Linked DNA regions of Homo sapiens: all the other regions are reported to be linked to region 2. Evidence: microRNA targets listed by miRTarBase, many of them from high-throughput screens and not tested one by one. Region 2 holds a microRNA gene; each other region holds the end of a gene's coding sequence.

Region 1 (3,578 bases), not on the chromosome of region 2:
TTAGTACTTATAAGGAAAAGATTTTACCATGGTTTGAACAACTACTTCCATTAATTGTAAATCTAATTTGTTCAAGTAGGCCATGGCCAGACAGACAGTGGGGATTGTGCATATTTGATGACATCATAGAGCACTGCAGTCCAACTTCATTTAAATATGTAGAATATTTTCGGTGGCCAATGCTACTAAATATGCGAGATAACAACCCTGAAGTCAGGCAAGCTGCTGCTTATGGCCTGGGTGTCATGGCACAGTTTGGTGGAGATGATTATCGTTCTTTATGTTCAGAAGCTGTTCCACTTCTGGTAAAAGTTATTAAGTGTGCAAATTCCAAAACCAAAAAAAATGTCATTGCTACAGAGAACTGTATCTCAGCAATAGGGAAGATTTTGAAGTTTAAGCCTAACTGTGTAAATGTAGATGAAGTTCTTCCACACTGGTTATCATGGCTTCCACTGCATGAAGATAAAGAGGAAGCTATTCAGACTTTGAGTTTTCTCTGTGACCTAATTGAAAGTAACCACCCAGTTGTAATTGGTCCAAATAATTCCAATCTTCCCAAAATAATCAGTATAATTGCAGAAGGAAAAATTAATGAGACTATTAACTATGAGGATCCTTGTGCCAAACGCCTAGCTAATGTCGTGCGTCAGGTACAGACTTCTGAAGATTTATGGTTGGAATGTGTATCACAACTTGATGATGAACAGCAGGAAGCCTTACAGGAGTTGCTAAATTTTGCTTGAAGCACTTTAATATAACTTGAATATTATCTATTATAAAAGTAACTACAAATAAGTGTTGTGAATAGATTTTATTATAAATCAGAGAACTGTTTTCTCCCTGCTAAGCAGTTTATAGTTCTTCTCCATGTTTCTCCAGAATTAATCAGTGTTAGTCCTCTGTTTATCTCGCATGTTTTATCTTCCAAACACAGACCTTGGTGATAACCTGTGCTTCAAACTGTCTTAAACAATGTTTGTCACCTTTCCCCTAGTTGATGTAAAGTATATAAATTGTTGCTATTTGTTTGAACTATTATTGATGCTAGCCAAGCAGTATACTTGATGTGAAGATGTCATGCTATCACAATATGCTAAGAGCTCACAAAAATAAGATAGAATTTCCAGGACAAACATCTTTGGAATTGTGAGTGAAGGATATAGTGGCAGGCTTGTCCCTCTTTAATTAATACTCTTGGTATTTGTGGTGATGGGAGGATGCTGTTACTAGGAGAGTTTTGAGATACTGCAGTGGATGTGGGATGTATATGAACTTCTTCATAATGTACTCCTGGGAACTGGGTAGGACATATCCATATTGTAGTTCCCAAGGTGTCTGGTTGAGAGTTAGAGAACTTTTAAATTTCTTTAGCCAGACAGGTCTCTATTTTTTTAAGTTATCCAGGACTCCAAGAACCATAGTTACTGAAAAGGGAGTCCTGATACATCTAATATTGGTAGCATGTAACAGTGTTTGACAAAGAGTAAGTAAGCAGTATTCTTGGGAGTCAGTGTTATGTGTTTCAGCAGAGTATTATTTTGTATATGTATGCCATTTTCTCCCTGCAAAGCAGCTCAACAAGAGAAAAAGCTCTAGTTATAGGGCTTAAATTGATTTCTATTTCAAATAATTTCCTAAGAGATTCTAGAGTAGAACTGAAGAGTATTCTATTGGAAAAGTGAAAGGAAAGAAATGTAATTTTCTTTGAACATGAAAAAGAAAACAACTTTGAGAGTAGTCATTTAGCAGTAGATGTGCATTATTATGAGAAAACAGTTCTATAAGTCCAGGGTTAATTATATTAATTGGAATGTCAGTCTTTAATGTCGAGCTTATTGTAGGGTAGAAAAGAGCTTTCTACTCAGCTAACGATTACTCATTGATCCAAAACTTAAATACATCTATAATTTCCTGGGGCTATTGTGAGTACTGTGTATGTATTTAGCAAATATTTAAGACCTAGTAAGTGCTCAATAAATTGTAGCTGTTATTGCTGTTGTTGTTTGTACCTCTATTGTGTCTGGAACTTCTTTTACTTTAGAATTTTCCCAATCCATTCCCTACTCATTCATATTGGCAGGCTATTTAGGCTATTGTTGACAAGAATATAAAGTTGAGATTTTAGATATGCAATTCTGTCCATTCCATGTAATTATTACTAATGGGGGAAAAAGGAAAATTAAGGACATTATGTATAGTATGATCACAATTTTTAGTATATTTAAGATAAATAAAGTATAGAAGAATGAATAGAAAAATCCCACCTCAAAGTATTAATAGAGGTTTTCTCTAGGTGGTAGGATTAAGTGGCAAATTTTCTCCTCACTTACCTATATTTTCTAATTTACCTACATACCTACAACCAACATATTTCTTGTTTTGTTTGTTTGTTTTGAGATGTAGTTTTGCTCTTGTTGCCCAAGCTGGAGTGCAATGGCACGATCTCGGCTCACTGCAACCTCCGCCTCCCAGGTTCAAGCAATTCTGCCTCAGCTTCCCGAGTAGCTGGGATTACAGGTGCGCACCACCACTCCCAGCTAATTTTTTGTATTCTTAGTAGAAACGGGGTTTCACCATGTTAGCCAGGCTGGTCTAGAACTCCTGACCTCAGGTGATCTGTCCACCTCAGCCTCCCAAAGTGCAGGGATTACAGGTGTCAGCCACCGTGCCCAGCCCATATTTCTTGTGTAATAGAGTTTCTTTTTTAAGATCAAGGACCCGATCCTACTTTCATTATAGTTAAGTTGCTATCATCTTGACCTCTTCATAACCTAGAGTTGAGGTTCCTTCTACTCACCCACACCTTTCTCTTTTATATAATCTTAATTAAGAAACCCTTTATCAACATTTCTAGCAATTCCCTACACTTTTATGTATGAGGAATTAGAAATTCTGCCAGATGACTTGGAATTAGGCACCTGGAGTTTTTGAAGTATGACAGACCTAGATTTTAACTTTGTTTAACAACTTTCTTAAACTAAGAGGCAGTTTCCTCATCTGAAAAATAAGGTTAATACCTAGCTGATAGGCTTGTTGTGAGATTAAAGGAGACAATGAATATAAAGTGCTTAGTGGCACAGGGTTCAATAATGTAAGCTAATATTGTCCAAGAGTCATGAAATAGAGCTGATGACTAAAGAGGAGTAGAGGATGTTTGCTTGGGTACGTTGGGCTTCAGATTCCTGGGCTTTGTCGAAAGAAAGGAGGAATGTCTAGTCAGACACACGTTTTGGTTGCCAGGTGCTGAAGTAAGACTGATCCCTGCATTTTTCTTTCTGTGAGCTGAGGTTCTGTGGACTCTTCAGAGTCCACAGACTCTTCTCTGAGGGGAGAGAACCCTGTAAATGCGTTATATATTACAAATGTCTGATGAGAGGAGACCTCGAATACTAGATAAAAGGTATGTGTGGAGGACAGTGTGAATACCCTAACAGAGCGTTCCCGCTTCACTATTTTACTTAAGAGTGATACTTAACTTACTGGACAAAAACAGCTTTGAGGTTAAAAAAAAATTTTATCACTGCTTTAAAGTTCACATTAATGAGAAGTAAACAATTGCAAGAGTCAGAGTATCC
Region 2 (3,578 bases):
CTACTCAGGAGGCTGAGGCAGGAGAATTGCTTGAACCCGGGAGGCGGAGGTTGCAGTGAGACGAGATCGTGCCAATGCACTCCAGCCTGGGTGACAGGAAAGAAAAAAAGAATATGCATTGTCTTACACACAAACATTCTCCAGGATAGAGCACTGCCTAGGCCGTAAAAGCTCCTCAATAACATTTGTACAGAAGTACGGGTGGAGTGCAGTGGCTTACACCTCTAATCCCAGCACTTTAGGAGTCGAAGGCGGGAAAATTACATGAGCTCGAGTTCAAAACTAGCCTGCCCAACATAGTAAAACCTCATCTGTAAAAATACAAAAGATAGCCAGGTGTAGTGGTTCATGCCTGTAGACACTAATTCAGGAGGCTGAGGTGGGAGGTAGAGGCTGCAGTGAGTTGAGGTCACAACACTGCACTCCAGCCTGGGCAATAGAGCCAGATGGTGTCTCAAAAAAAATTAAAAAAAAAAAAAATACACAAACAAAAACAACCCCAAAGTGATATAAGAGTATTCTCTGTGTGCAGAAGACTATTTTGTGTGAATATAATTATACATAGAAGATTATATGATAACATGTATATATTTTGGAGACCCTGTCTCAAAAAAACAAAGTTCCATGTACTATATGCTCACATAAAGAATAATTCCTACATACTAGTGCTTGGGCAGCAAGAACGAAACTCCATCTCAAAAAAAAAAAAAAGAAAAAATCAAAACAAAAACAGAAGCCCACCATCATCCATCTCTGATGATAAGCATGCTCTGAAAATGTATTACCAAGATCAGCATCAACTTCAATGTTGCTTTTCTCAAACGGTAACCCTCTAAAAGGAAGCACTTTCTTTTCTTTCAGACAACAGAAAGTGCTTCCCTCTAGAGGACGACAGCCTGAGATCTTCTTGCTCTGGCACTGTGGATTTTTTGTGGGAATCTTCCTTGACCAGGTTAAAATGGACGCAAAAATAAAGATGCATTTATTTGCCCTGTTTGCATGTTTTCTGGAATCCAGAGCATAAATCCCTAAAAGGACCATCTGCAGTTCTTTGCTTCAAAGAATCAGCAGGTTAGCCTTGTTCATCAACGGGCAATCCTCCTGAGTTTTGTTCCCAAAGAGAAAAGGCAATGCCTACTACACATACCTTATCTTTAACCAAGAGAATTGGGCTGGATTTCTAGAGAATAGCAATGGATTTTGAGCCAAGTGGTCGCTTGAGTTCCAGTACAGGAGCGCACAGTCCTCATGGGGGCATCCGAAATGGAATCTAAGATGTTGAAGAATATACACTGTTGTAGGCACAAACATCCTGCAGGGTAGACAACAGGCTACCCTGTAAACGCTCCTCAATAAAATCTGAGCAGAAACAGACGAGTATAGGTGGGGCACAACAGCTCACACCACTAATCCTAGCACTTTAGGAGGCCAAGGTGGAAGATCACCTGAGCTAAGGAGTTCGAGACCAACCTGGGCAACATGGGGAAACCACATCTGTACAAAAAAACCAAAAGTTAGCCAGGTGTGGTGGTGTATGCCTGCAGACAGCTATTCAGGAGGCTGAGCTGGGAGTTGGAGGTTGCAGTGAGCCGAGATCGCACCACTGCACTCCAGCCTGGGCGACAGAGTGAGACTCTGTCTCTAAAATGAATAAGTTAAAAAATAAATACATAACAATAATACAAAAATTAGCTGGGCGTGGTGGCATATGCCTGTAATCCCAGCTGCTCGGGAGGCTGAGGCAGGAGAATCATTTGAACCTGGGAGGCAGAGGTTGCAGTGAGCAAAGTTCCTGATACTGAGCTCCAGCCAGGGTCACAGAGCAAGACTCTGTCCCAAAAAAGAGGGCCACTTGAACCCAAGAGATCTAGGTTGGAGGGGCCACCATACTCCAGCCTGGGCAACAGACACCCTGTCTTAGGAAAAAAAACCAAAAAAACCCCACAAAACCCCAACATCATCCAAGTCTGATTATAAGCATGATCTCCAAGATCAGCATTAACTTCAATGTTGTTTTTCTCAAAGAGTAATCCTCTAAAAGGAAGCGCTTTCTCTTCTTTCAAGCAACAGAAAGTGCTTCCCTCTAGAGGGTCACAGCCTGAGCTCTTCTTGCTCCAGCACTGTGGGTTTTTTGTTGGAATTTTCCTTCACCAGGTTAAAATGGACACAAAAATGAGGATGCATTTATTGGCCCTGTTTGCATGTTTTCTGGAATCCAGAACATAAAACCCTAAAAGGACCATCTCCAGTTCCTTGCTTCAAAGTCTCAGCAGGTTAGCCTAGATCATCGAGGGACAATCCTCCTGAGTTCTGTCTCCAGAAAAAGCATTGCCTACTACACATACCTTACATTTAACCAAGAGAATTGGGCTGGATTTCTAGAGAACAGCAATGGATTTTGAGCCAAGCGTTCACTTGAGTTCCAGCACAGGGACACACAGTCCCGATGGGAGCATTCAAAACTGAATCTCCCATGTTGAAAAATATACATTGTTGGCCGGGCGCAGTGGCTTATGCCTGTAATCCCACCACTTTGGGTGGCTGAGGCGGGCGGCTCACATGAAGTCAGGGGTTTCAGACCAGCCTGGCCAACATGGTGAAAAAAAAAATACAAAAGTAACCGGGCGTGGTGACGGGTGCCTGTGATTCCAGCTACTCAGGAGGTTGAGGCAGAAGACTTGCTTGAACCTGAGAGGCAAAGGTTTGAGTGAGCCGAGGTCCTGCCACTGCCCTCTGGCCTGAGTGACAGTGAGACTCCATCTCAAAACAAATAAATACATGAATAAATAACATGCAAATATTAGCCAGGCATGGTGTCAGGCACCTATAATCCCAGCTACTCAGGAATGTGAGGCAGGAGAACTGCCTAAAACTGGGAGGTGGAGGTTGCAGTGAGCTGAGATCACGTCACTACACTCCAGCATGGGTCACAGAGCAAGACTGTCCGAAAAAAGAGGACCATTTGAGCCCAAGACACCTAGGTTGGAAGTGCCAACACACTCCAGCCTGGGCAAGAGACCCTATCTTAGAAAAACAACAACAACAAAACAGGACCCCACCATCCTCCATGTCTGATGGAAGCACGCTCTGCGAAGTTATTACCAAGATCAGCATAACTTGTTGGGAGGCCAAGGTGGGCGAGTCACCTGAGGTCAGGAGTTCCAGACCAGCCTCGCCAACAAGGTAAAATCCCAGCTCTAAAAATACAAAAAAAATTTTGCCAAGCGTGGTGACACGTGTCTGCAATTGTACCTACTTGGGAGTCAGAAGTTGCAGGAGCAGAGACTGGGCCGCTGCACTCCACCCTGAGGGACAGAGTGAGATACTGACTCAAAAAAAAAAAAAAAAAAAAATTGCTTGAACCCAGGAGGCAGAGGTTGCAGTGAGCCGAGATCACATTATTGCACTCCAGCTTGAGTGACAGAGTGACACTGCCTCACAAAGTCAAAGACAGAACAAAAGAACCCTCCTTGCCCTCTTCTTGCCTGTGCATAGATTAAAATATTCACCTGTAGTCCCAGATACTAGGAAGAGGAGAGGGAGAGAGCACATTCTACCCTGGGCGGCATAGCGAGACC
Region 3 (3,578 bases), not on the chromosome of region 2:
TATTTCTCAGTGTAAAGATAAGGGACCTGTGATATTGAGGGGTTAAAGTACTTGCACAGTTTCACTGCTAGTAATCTTGGAGAGCCAAGATCTGAACTCGGGGATCTAGGCCCTTACCCACAACCAACATGCCTAAGTAAGGCAAGGGTGTGGACAGTGCAATGCTTTGTGCTGGAGCAGCAGGTACCAGGCCTCCAGGAGATGAGTCTCCTTCTCTTCACCATGTAACGTACCAAATAACTTTTGTTTCTCGTCCTGCCCCCGAGGAAAGGGCAGTGCCCTCAATGTGCCCTGGTTTGTGCTGCTCCCTCCCTGGTATCCCTGCTTTAGCTCTGGCCACACCAGATGAGTTAGGGGAATCCAGGTGGTGGGAGTGGAAAAATTGGGTTCTCTCGTGGGGAAAGACGAGAGACTCACAGAGGGCACTTCCCCACAGGATGAAAAGTACTGGACAAGACGCAAGAAGAACAACGTGGCAGCTAAACGGTCACGGGATGCCCGGCGCCTGAAAGAGAATCAGATCACCATCCGGGCAGCCTTCCTGGAGAAGGAGAACACAGCCCTGCGGACGGAGGTGGCCGAGCTACGCAAGGAGGTGGGCAAGTGCAAGACCATCGTGTCCAAGTATGAGACCAAATACGGGCCCTTGTAACCCGTGCCCCCCGCCCGGGCGGGGTACTGCCTGCACCTCAGACCTCTGCCTGGGGGCTCCCTGTAACCCCTCACACGCGTGGAGACTTATGACTCGTCGTGGGCGCATGGCGGCGCACCTGCTGCAGGAGCGGCCACGTCTCAGCTTCATTATACCATGGCCTGCGCACGTGGCGACGTCCCTGAGGGGCCAGTCTCCTCACTGGTGGGGAACGCAAGAGAATCTGCGTAGATGGGTGACTCAGCCTTAGTTTCTATTCTTGGATGTCCCAGTTGAATCAGAAGGGGACCTCTGGAGTACACACCTCTCTCCTGGGCGCTCAGGGTCCCTGGACTCTCCCTCAGTCTCCAGCCTGGGCTGCCGAGGGCTATCTCTGCAGAATGAGTTGTGATCATTGTCACCCTATGTCTTCTCAGGTAGCAGGGCGCGTTTCCACTTAAGGTGTGTCTGTCACGCACCTCATTCTCCCCAGACAGTCTTTGAGTAACATCTGTTCCCATCTTCCTTGGAAGCAGGACACACCAGCTCCTCCGTCAGTGTCTGCATGGGTAGCAGGCTGCAGGAGTGGGGTCTCTGCACAGCCTGGGATGGGGCTTGGGGCTGGGGCCTGCAGCAGAAGTGTGCCCAGCGTTTCTCGGCTCCCGCACCCCTTTTCCCTTATGGCTCTGAGGCCATCGGCTGTCTCTGCATTTCATTGGCTGTGGAGGAGAGACTCCTAGGATGGCTGCTGTCTGAGCCATGAGTGCCAGGGCTGAGAGAGGCCTCTTCATTTCCTCTCCAGGCTACTCAGAGGCCATGTGAAGCTCGTTTGTCCCACTAGACCAGGCCTCTGGGCCTGCTCTTTCTTTCCACCCAATGTCCAGTCTTGGATCATAGATTTAAAAGGAAAACCCCTCTTATCTAGGAGGCTTTAACTTCCTGGACCCCAGGATTCACCTTCCTAGTGGTGTTTAGAAAATGCCTCCACAGCCCCCTTCCACCATGGGCATGAGAGCTGGGGTGTGTTTCTTGAGAAGCTCCCTTTTTTCTTGCTCTGCTCACCGGTGTGGCCTGGGCTGGAGTGCACTCTCCCTGGGGGCAGCTGGGGCCTCGCAATTCTTGCTTCAGGATCTCTCCCATGCGAGCTGCCCGGAGGGTGTCAGCAGGGCAAGACACCTAGTCTAGAGTCACCAAGGTCACAGTGCCACTTTCACGGGATAGCAGGCTCTTGGGACTTTTACACAGGCCTAGGGTCCCCTCAGTCTTGGTCCCAGGAGATGGGGGCCACTCGTGAGGCTGGCCATGCTGTGGCTTCTCACAGCTGTGGTCTCCCCTGCCTCACAACGACTCCTTTCTCTTGTGTGGCGGGACTCGCCCTTTTGCTGTGCTCAGAAGATTCACTGAGGAAACTCATGGAAGCCTCTGCTCATTTGGGTCACTGGGACACCCCTGAGATGGGTGTGTTTATTTGCTCAGGGCGGGCAGCCTATGGTGAAGAGGAGACAGAGGCGATGGGCGTGCTTCGTCCTCCGTAACACTGGCTTTATTTACCGTGGTGGTTCAGAGTCCCAGGCCCTGACCTCTAAAGACTTTTCATAACAGACGTTAAGACCAAGCCGTGGACCTCACCCCAGGGGAATGCCACGGCCCTTTGGGGACCTGCACACCCACCTCTCCGGGGGACTTGACAAGGGGCCCTGAGGCCAAGGGAGGTCACTCCTCCCTCCAGGCCCCTGACTTTTACTTTGTGGTTCTCTAAAAACCATGTACACACTTTCACTCTATTGTAACCACACAGGGCAGGCGCATCCAGCATGTCAGTGTCCTGCCCCGGGCAGCTCTCCCTCCCGGGCACGCTCCCTCTGGCCTGGTGGATCACCAAGAGGGCGGTTCTCATTTTGTTATTAGTGGAAGAGCCTTGAGCTTAAAAGCTCTTCATTTTCTTTGCCGGAAAGTATATGGTTTGTGTTTTTGCAGTTTTATTTTTTTAAGGATGGACACTAAATCTCTGGTGTCCATGTTCCGAGCCCGGTGGCTGGGATGGTGGCTCGATGTGTCTCCTCTTTATCCCGCCCTCTGCCTGTTTGGTGCCCTCCCTTCTTTCCCCCAGGCAGTGGGTATCGGGTTCTTTCCCAAAGTGCTTACTTGGAAAGAGTGTGGCTGCTGGACTCTTTTCGAAATGCCCCTCTGAGTCAGGAGCCTGGTGGGGACAAGATGGAGGATGTCCACAGAGGCTGACCTGTGGGGGAAAAGAAGTGCTCAGGTAAGGTTGTCTCCTCTCCTGTCCTAAAAAAATCCATGCTTGCAGGAGAGGGTTGGTGCCTGCTCAGTTTCTGTCGAGGGAATGGGAGTCTCCTCGGCTCCCTCCTGGGCCCTCTGCTTCTTGGAGGCCGACCGCTGGAGACTGCGGCTCCTGTGCTTGGATCTTTGACATCTGTCAGTCACTGGAGGCTAGAGAAGTTGACTTTACCTTGGCTTTCTGTGGGTTCCCGATGGGCTTGGAAGTGCCGTCTACTTCCTAAGCATCCTGTCTAAAGCTTTGTGGCACCCTCAGTGCAACCTCAGAACAGACAAATCATGAATGAGCTGGAACTTTGCAAGAATATTCATATTATAAATGTCTCATCTGATGGAGGAACGTGTGCATTTAGAGAGAGGGAGAGTTTTCAAGGTTTATGGCAACTTTGTGGAGGACCTGGGTAACTCTTACCCTTGGCCAAAGGAAGAGGTTTTCCTGTCTGGCTTCTGAGGTTGGAGGGGGCACTTAGCAGTGAACCTTAAGTCTGGGTACATGTAACCCTGCTGAGGGGCTGTGCAGGCCGCTCCTACGGTCCTTTGGCCTGAGGCAGGGCGGGAGGCATGCAAGCCAGTGGGGGAAAACCCCTCTGAAGCTGGGCAGCCCTCTACCTGGGCCCCGGGAGCCGTGCTCCTTGGAACGCAAAGGGCC
Region 4 (3,000 bases), not on the chromosome of region 2:
AAATGCCCCCACATAATAAAGAGTGCTTGTATTAGGATACAGTAGCAAAATCACCCCCACATCACAGTGGTTTATTCTGACCAAAGCATTTATTTTCATTCCATTTACATAGGAGGTGGCATTGTAGAAAATAAAAACTTTCTCAAAGAGATATGAATTAAAGAAAAGTTAGAGTAAGGTGAATACTTATTTAAACATACCTTTAGAGTGAGGGTAAGCCCCCTTCCCAACCCAAAATGAACTGAATGAGAGAGAAAAAGAGGTCCAGAGTAGTTTGTGGAGCGATGTTTCCATCTCTAATGCCACTCAGCTCAGGAGCAGGCTTCAGACACTGCCTTTATCTTTACAGAAAGCCATGGGAAGGGAAATGTCTGAGGTAGAGCTCAGCGTTGGGCATCATATGGCTAATCACTCAGAGGTCACTAATCACTCTCCCTTTTCTTGTTTTTCAGTGAACGAGATAATTGGGAGAGACATGTCCCAGATTTCTGTTTCCCAAGGAGCAGGGGTGAGCAGGCAGGCTCCCCTCCCGAGTCCTGAGTCCCTGGATTTAGGAAGATCTGATGGGCTCTAACAGTGCTTACTGCAGCCTTGTGTCCACCACCAACTTCTCAGCATGTTTCTCTCCTTGGACCTTGGGTTTCCAACTCTGCAGCCTTCAGGTCTGGGGCCAGGAGTGGGACCCACCATTTGTGGGGAAAGTAGCATTCCTCCACCTCAGGCCTTGGGTAGATTTGGCAAAAGAACAGGAGCAGCATAGGCTGTTTGAGCTTTGGGGAAATGAACTTTGCTTTTTATATTTAACTAGGATACTTTTATATGATGGGTGCTTTGAGTGTGAATGCAGCAGGCTCTCTTGTTTCCGAGGTGCTGCTTTTGCAGGTGACCTGGTTACTTAGCTAGGATTGGTGATTTGTACTGCTTTATGGTCATTTGAAGGGCCCTTTAGTTTTTATGATAATTTTTAAAATAGGAACTTTTGATAAGACCTTCTAGAAGCAAAAAAAAAAAAAAAAAAAAAAAAAAGAAAAAAAAAGAAAAGAAAAAAAGAAAAAGAAAAAAATATCCCAAGCCCACACCTATGCCTCAGAAAGTCAGCATGTGTCCTGAAGACGTTCATAGATTTATAGGAAATAAAGCCAAATGTAGCTCATACCTCTTTATAAAACTAAACTGTTGTTAGATAAAATGAGAAGAGACCATTCCATCATTGAAGTGTTGGAATATAAAAAGACATTCCAGAGCATAGCCTTTTGGTAACTTTCTAGGTAATCTTGCAATCTCTCCATACTGGCTCCATGTTGAAATTGCTTTTTCCCTCAGGACCCTGGGTAAGATGGCTACATTTAAGGTGACTCTGAATGGTGGGGTTCTAGCTTGGTCACTTTCATTTCTTGCCATCATAAAAACTAGTAGGCTGTGGAGTGCGCTTCCTGTTTGTGTCATCTGGTCGTAGAACCTTTTCCAAACAGAAGCATCTGCCTTTGGCTGTTCTGTGACCTTTGAAGCCAGTCTCAGTGGTTTAGGCAGCTTTGCAGTTCTAACTCTAGCTAGAGGCCAGGCTGTGTGCAGAGCTAAAGCACAAATGAGCAGTACATCAGCATGGGCAGAGAAAATACAGGACTCCAGATGGGAAGGTTTTAAGAGTCACACTGGCATGGAAGGCTTATCTGCCATTCTATTTATAGCCTGAAATGATTCTGGCCTACCCTGTCCTGTCTGTATGATCTAAAAACCAGCCTTTTCCCCAGAAGGCTCTGAGCACATCCAGAAGTGATAACCTGACCCTCCACACCAAAGACACCCTGGTGCTGCTGCTGGTGAGACTGGTGTCCAAGGCAGGGCCCAGCAGAAACTGCAGCCTGCTGTCTACCAAAGGAGGTACCCGAGTTGGGTACTTTAAAAAAAAAAAAAACCTGCCCTTACCCCTCTCCCTAATGGGATTTTTTTTACCTGTTCCTGGGCCCATTACAGAGCCTCTGAAGTTTGCAGTATGCTTTCAAATGAAATAATATACTTCCATTGATTCAGGAAGCAGATTTTTTGAGTGCCTATATGTGAGACAGTGTGCTGGTTGAAGGCCTGATGCTGTTATTCCAGGAGACTGCAGGCCCTTGATGCCAGGACTCTCTCTACTAAGGCCAGTTCAGGTCTGGGAAAGGGAGCTGGCCTATTGCCCACCACCTGTTGTCAGTAGGTTAGGAGCTGTTGACTCAGGATGAGGAAGTATGGTCTTTAAAAAAAACAAAATATATTTTAGATTTCTCCCCTAAAGTTAGTTAGAGAAAAAGGTCTATTCTTCAGCAGATCACTGTGGCCCCTCTTGGAGCTGGGTGTTTTCAAATTTTCTTGAAAAGTGAGTTGTGTCACAGAATGTGGATAGTGAGATTTGCTTCTGGGCCTGTGGTTGGACGCCCACAGCTTCCTTTGGAGGGGCAAGAAGTTGGCCTCTCGGTTGACATTCCAGAGAAATGGCCAGACTTGCCCCTACCCTTTTGCCCCTGGTGTAGCTGCCTCACATGAGGTTATTGCAAGAGTTCCCCTTGCAATACCCTTTGTGCCCTCAAGAATTAAAAGCCTCTATGATCCAGAGTTGCTATGCACCAAATTTTGATGCCTTCTAAATACCTTGATGCCTGTAGCACTAGAAATGCTTTCCTATTTAAAATAAACATTAAATTTTAAAATAGAGCTTTGTATACTATGTAAGCAGTTTTATATCAGCTTTGTAAAAGCTTTGGTGTTAAGAGTCAATATTTTTTGGCTTTGTAGATAAAGACTTAAATTTTTGTGCAACATAGTGGTGTTAAAGCACACATCCATTGGACTATGCAAATCAATTTCTACTAGCAGCACTGAGCAACTGGGCACGTGCTAGTACGCACCCCCTCCTACTCTAACTGTGCTAGCTCTTGGGTTGAGGAATGGAATGGGTAGCCTTCTGCTTACTGGAGATGCACAGAGAAACATGGCTGAAAACAGCTTTAAAAAGAACATGTC
Region 5 (3,578 bases), not on the chromosome of region 2:
GGGGCTGTGGTGCCTACCTCAGTCATTGCCCGAGTGTTAGAGAAGCCGGAGTCTCTACTGCTCAATTCAGCCCAGTCAGGCAGCGCCGGGCGCCCCTTGGCTGAGGATGTCTTTGTGCATGTGGACATGAGTGAGGGTGTCCCAGGTGATCCAGCCAGTCCCCCGGCCCCTGGCAGCCCCACCCCACAACCCAATGGGGAGTGCCACTCTCTGGGTACTGCCAGGGGCTCCCCGGAGGAAGAGCTGCCCCTGCCAGCCTTTGAGAAGCTGAACCCCTACCCAACCCCGTCTCCACCACACCCACTGTATCCTGGCCGCAGGGTAATAGAGTTCTCTGAGGATAAGGTTCGGATCCCCCGCAACAGCCCCCTGCCCAACTGCACTTACGCTACCCGCCAGGCCATTTCCCTGAGCCTGGTAGAGGAGGGGAGTGAGCGGGCCCGCCCCAGCCCAGTGCCCAGCACCCCTGCCTCAGCCCAGGCCTCACCCCACCACCAGCCCAGCCCAGCACCCCTAACACTCAGTGCCCCAGCTAGCTCTGCCAGCTCTGAAGAGGACCTGCTGGTCAGCTGGCAGCGGGCATTTGTGGACCGTACTCCACCACCTGCTGCTGTGGCCCAGCGCACAGCCTTTGGACGCGATGCCCTCCCTGAGCTGCAGCGCCATTTTGCCCATAGCCCCGCTGACAGAGATGAGGTGGTCCAGGCACCTTCTGCCCGACCCGAAGAGAGTGAGCTTTTGCTACCCACAGAACCTGACTCTGGCTTTCCCAGGGAGGAAGAAGAGCTGAACCTGCCTATCAGTCCTGAGGAAGAGCGCCAGAGCCTGCTGCCCATTAACAGGGGCACAGAGGAGGGGCCAGGCACTTCCCACACCGAGGGCAGGGCCTGGCCACTCCCCAGCTCCAGTCGCCCCCAGCGCAGCCCCAAGAGGATGGGGGTTCACCACCTGCACCGCAAGGACAGCCTGACCCAGGCCCAGGAGCAGGGCAACCTGCTCAACTAGGGCCCCTGCTGGCCTTCCTGCCATTGCTGCACCAGGACTGCAAGGAGTCCCCACACCTTGGCAGCTCAGGGTCCCCAGTCCAAGCCCTTGACCTCTCCTCTATCCAGACCCGCACAGCTGTTTCCTGTGTGGATGGGGTCAGGTTGTGGGCCATGCCAGGCCTGTCAGCTGCGTTGACTGACTGCAGCAGCTTGCCTCATGGTTTTCCCTTTTTCTTAGAATATTTATTCTTCAGAGGTAACATGCAGTTGGGTCTCAAGACCTTTCCTCCAATCAGCCCAACCCAGCCCAGACTGGGCTTTTCTGGGGAGCTGAGGAGTTTATCAGTATTCATCTTCCATCCTTTCATAGTCACAAGTTTTGTTATTTTGTTTTTTTTTGGGGGTGATGGTGTAATTGTTAACCTCATTTCCGTTTCCTACCTGTTTGCTTCCCCCCCCAGTCCTCCGCATGAGCTGTTGCCCTCCAGGGGCCTGGCACAGCTGGCCTTGGGGACGAGGGAGAGGACTGATTCAGGGCCCCCTCAGCTGTCTCCTCCCTCCCTCTGGAAAGGAGGGTGGGGCTCAGGGGCCTCAAGCTGGGCTCTGTGTGAGGCCTGGCCCCCACTCCCAACCTTGGCTCTAGACTGTTACTCTTAAGCTTTGAGAAATTTTCACATTGATGACTATTTTAAAATCAAATAAAACTATTTTACTGGTATGGCCTAACTTGTCTTAATGACCTCCCCTCTCCCACTTTTCTCCCCATTCATAAGTATTCCCAGTCCTAGTCTCATCCTAGTCGGCTAGTGACTCCCCCTCGCCCCACTCTGCCTAGGGTTTCCCTAGGCACAGAGCATCAGGGAGCGGGAAAGGGGGCACCTTAAGTAACCTTAGCAGGGTTCCTGAGTCTTCCCTCGGAGGCAGGGACCATATCTTTATGGGGCTAGTGTAAGGTGTTGCCTCAGAGGCCTGGGTTCTAGGCCTGGCCAGGCCTATTTTGAGATCCTGGACCAGGTCACGCAGCTTAGAGCTTGGGCTGTGCGATGCTACTGCCCCCTAGTGGTGCTTACTGGTAGTTCCAATTCCTCCCCTACTGCCGGCCCCAAGTGACTACAGCCACACGACAGGTTGTGGAGTTCATAAAATCTTTTCCGAGCCAGCGGGTTGCAGCCAGAGCTGCCAAGTTCAAAGGCATTGCCGTGGGTTCAAGTGCCCCCCAAGGCTGTTGCTCAGTCACAGCTTCCAGAGCTTCCTTCCCACCACACTGCCAGGAGCTGCCAGAGCCCCCATGCAGCCCCTGACCCCAGTTCCCTCCCAAGTCCCAGGGCCTGACCCTGATATCTGGGGCAAGGTGCTCGGGACATAGATAAGTGAAATGGTGTGCAGAGGCCCAGTGGAGAGTCACATCTCGGTCTCAGCCAACAGACTGTCCCCTAGTCCTGACGTCATTAGCACCATCTGAGAGCTGGGATCTGTGGAAGGGCAGAGAAGTGTTCAGACCACCATTCCTTCCTCCAATGGGGACCACAGATAGGTGAGAGCCTAGGTTCTGCACACCCACTCTCCCTTGTCCCGAGCCTCTTCCAGACCTGGCTCTGATCAACCCTCTGGGTTCTTACCGCTGGGGCACATCCAGGAGCTGCTGCCTCTCTGGTGGGCAGCAGGCTCCCGCCCTCTCTCCCATTCCTGGGTGTCGCCAGCCCCTCCTGCCACTTCCTCCTCCTCCTCTCCCTCAGAGAGGAGGTCACAGATCTGTTGCTGCAGCTCTGGGCTAATGCTGTTCTCAGCCAACACCAGGCTCCGCAAAGCTGTGGGGTAATTTTCTACCATGTCCAGCAGGGTCTGAAGTGGGGAAGAATATGGAAAAGGATGAACACAGTTAAGGCAGGTCCTCAGACCTCAACCTGCCATGCCTTAGGTATGTCATCAGACACATAAACTAACCTCCACCCCATCCCCTGGCCGTGCCCAAACATGACGACTTCCCACCTGAGCTGACTGGTTGGTGAGCCCTGTGCCCTCCAAGTCTAGGACCTCTAGGGTACGACTAGAGGCCACAGCTACAGCCAGCATTCCTGCCACATGGTCACCTGGGGAGACAACACACGTGCACACATTCATACACATGCCTGCTAATCCTTACAGATAGCTTCCCCATTGCCTTAACAACTTTAGATACTAATCCCTGGCCAAGGAAACATGGACAATTGGTGGTGGTCAGGAAGGGATCATTGTGATTGGTGAGTGAAGGCACGAAGCAAGTTAGGCCCACGGGTGGTGACTGATGTTTTGATCTATTTGTTGGTCACCTGGTCCGCCACAAAGCTATCTCCTTGACCCCTGGGGGCTCCCGTTTCTCTTCCCTCTCCCAGTGTACGGGTTACCATGTCAACTGATGGTCCCAGGCTCTTGGATAGGGCATGAGGCAGTGACAGCCCAAGGGGGTATTCTTGAGCCTCACCCAGGGGGTTGTAATCCAGATTGAGGACGCGGACCTGGGAGCTGTGGGCCACGGCAATGGCAAGGCGGCTCCAGCCCTTAGGGGTGATGCCAGGGTTGGCACTCAGCGTTAGCTCCTTCAAGCCTGGGCAG

Evidence for each region. Region 2 holds the annotated microRNA hsa-miR-520c-5p (CUCUAGAGGGAAGCACUUUCUG, at 2,068-2,089, opposite strand). A microRNA usually pairs through its seed, bases 2 to 8, with sites in the 3' UTR of a target mRNA and lowers its output. Matches are read on the target gene's strand: a 7mer-m8 pairs with bases 2 to 8, a 7mer-A1 pairs with bases 2 to 7 and ends in A, and an 8mer does both.
Region 1: the mRNA of RANBP6 is a reported target of hsa-miR-520c-5p. The part of its 3' UTR that is shown has no 7-base or 8-base seed match.
Region 3: the mRNA of TEF is a reported target of hsa-miR-520c-5p. The part of its 3' UTR that is shown has no 7-base or 8-base seed match.
Region 4: miRTarBase lists NFATC3 as a target of hsa-miR-520c-5p. Seed matches in the 3' UTR shown: 7mer-A1 at 992-998.
Region 5: miRTarBase lists TJAP1 as a target of hsa-miR-520c-5p. Seed matches in the 3' UTR shown: 7mer-m8 at 1,624-1,630.

The regions. Positions count from the first base shown.
Region 1 is chr9:6,009,458-6,013,035 of GRCh38, reverse strand. It overlaps RANBP6 (RAN binding protein 6), which reads left to right. Exons shown (of 1, transcript NM_012416.4): 1 at 1-2,011. The coding sequence ends at 746. Among named protein-coding and RNA genes, the nearest start is that of BRD10, 2.8 kb to the right of the region's middle.
Region 2 is chr19:53,704,777-53,708,354 of GRCh38, reverse strand. MIR526A1 (microRNA 526a-1) reads right to left here and starts at 2,103; the gene lies at 2,019-2,103. MIR520C (microRNA 520c) reads right to left here and starts at 902; the gene lies at 816-902. LOC107985346 (a long non-coding RNA gene) reads right to left here. Exons shown (of 5, transcript XR_001753998.1): 3 at 3,510-3,578; 4 at 1,148-1,270; 5 at 46-86.
Region 3 is chr22:41,395,309-41,398,886 of GRCh38, forward strand. TEF (TEF transcription factor, PAR bZIP family member) reads left to right here. Exons shown (of 4, transcript NM_003216.4): 4 at 437-3,578. The coding sequence ends at 652. Among named protein-coding and RNA genes, the nearest start is that of TEF, 15 kb to the left of the region's middle.
Region 4 is chr16:68,225,898-68,228,897 of GRCh38, forward strand. It overlaps NFATC3 (nuclear factor of activated T cells 3), which reads left to right. Exons shown (of 10, transcript NM_173165.3): 10 at 453-3,000. The coding sequence ends at 574. Among named protein-coding and RNA genes, the nearest start is that of MIR6773, 6.1 kb to the right of the region's middle. RefSeq lists an enhancer at 1,540-1,589.
Region 5 is chr6:43,504,851-43,508,428 of GRCh38, forward strand. TJAP1 (tight junction associated protein 1) reads left to right here. Exons shown (of 11, transcript NM_001350562.2): 11 at 1-1,704. The coding sequence ends at 1,005. LRRC73 (leucine rich repeat containing 73) reads right to left here. Exons shown (of 6, transcript NM_001012974.4): 3 at 3,448-3,570; 4 at 2,976-3,076; 5 at 2,606-2,828; 6 at 2,118-2,458. The coding sequence ends at 2,388. Among named protein-coding and RNA genes, the nearest start is that of LRRC73, 3.7 kb to the right of the region's middle.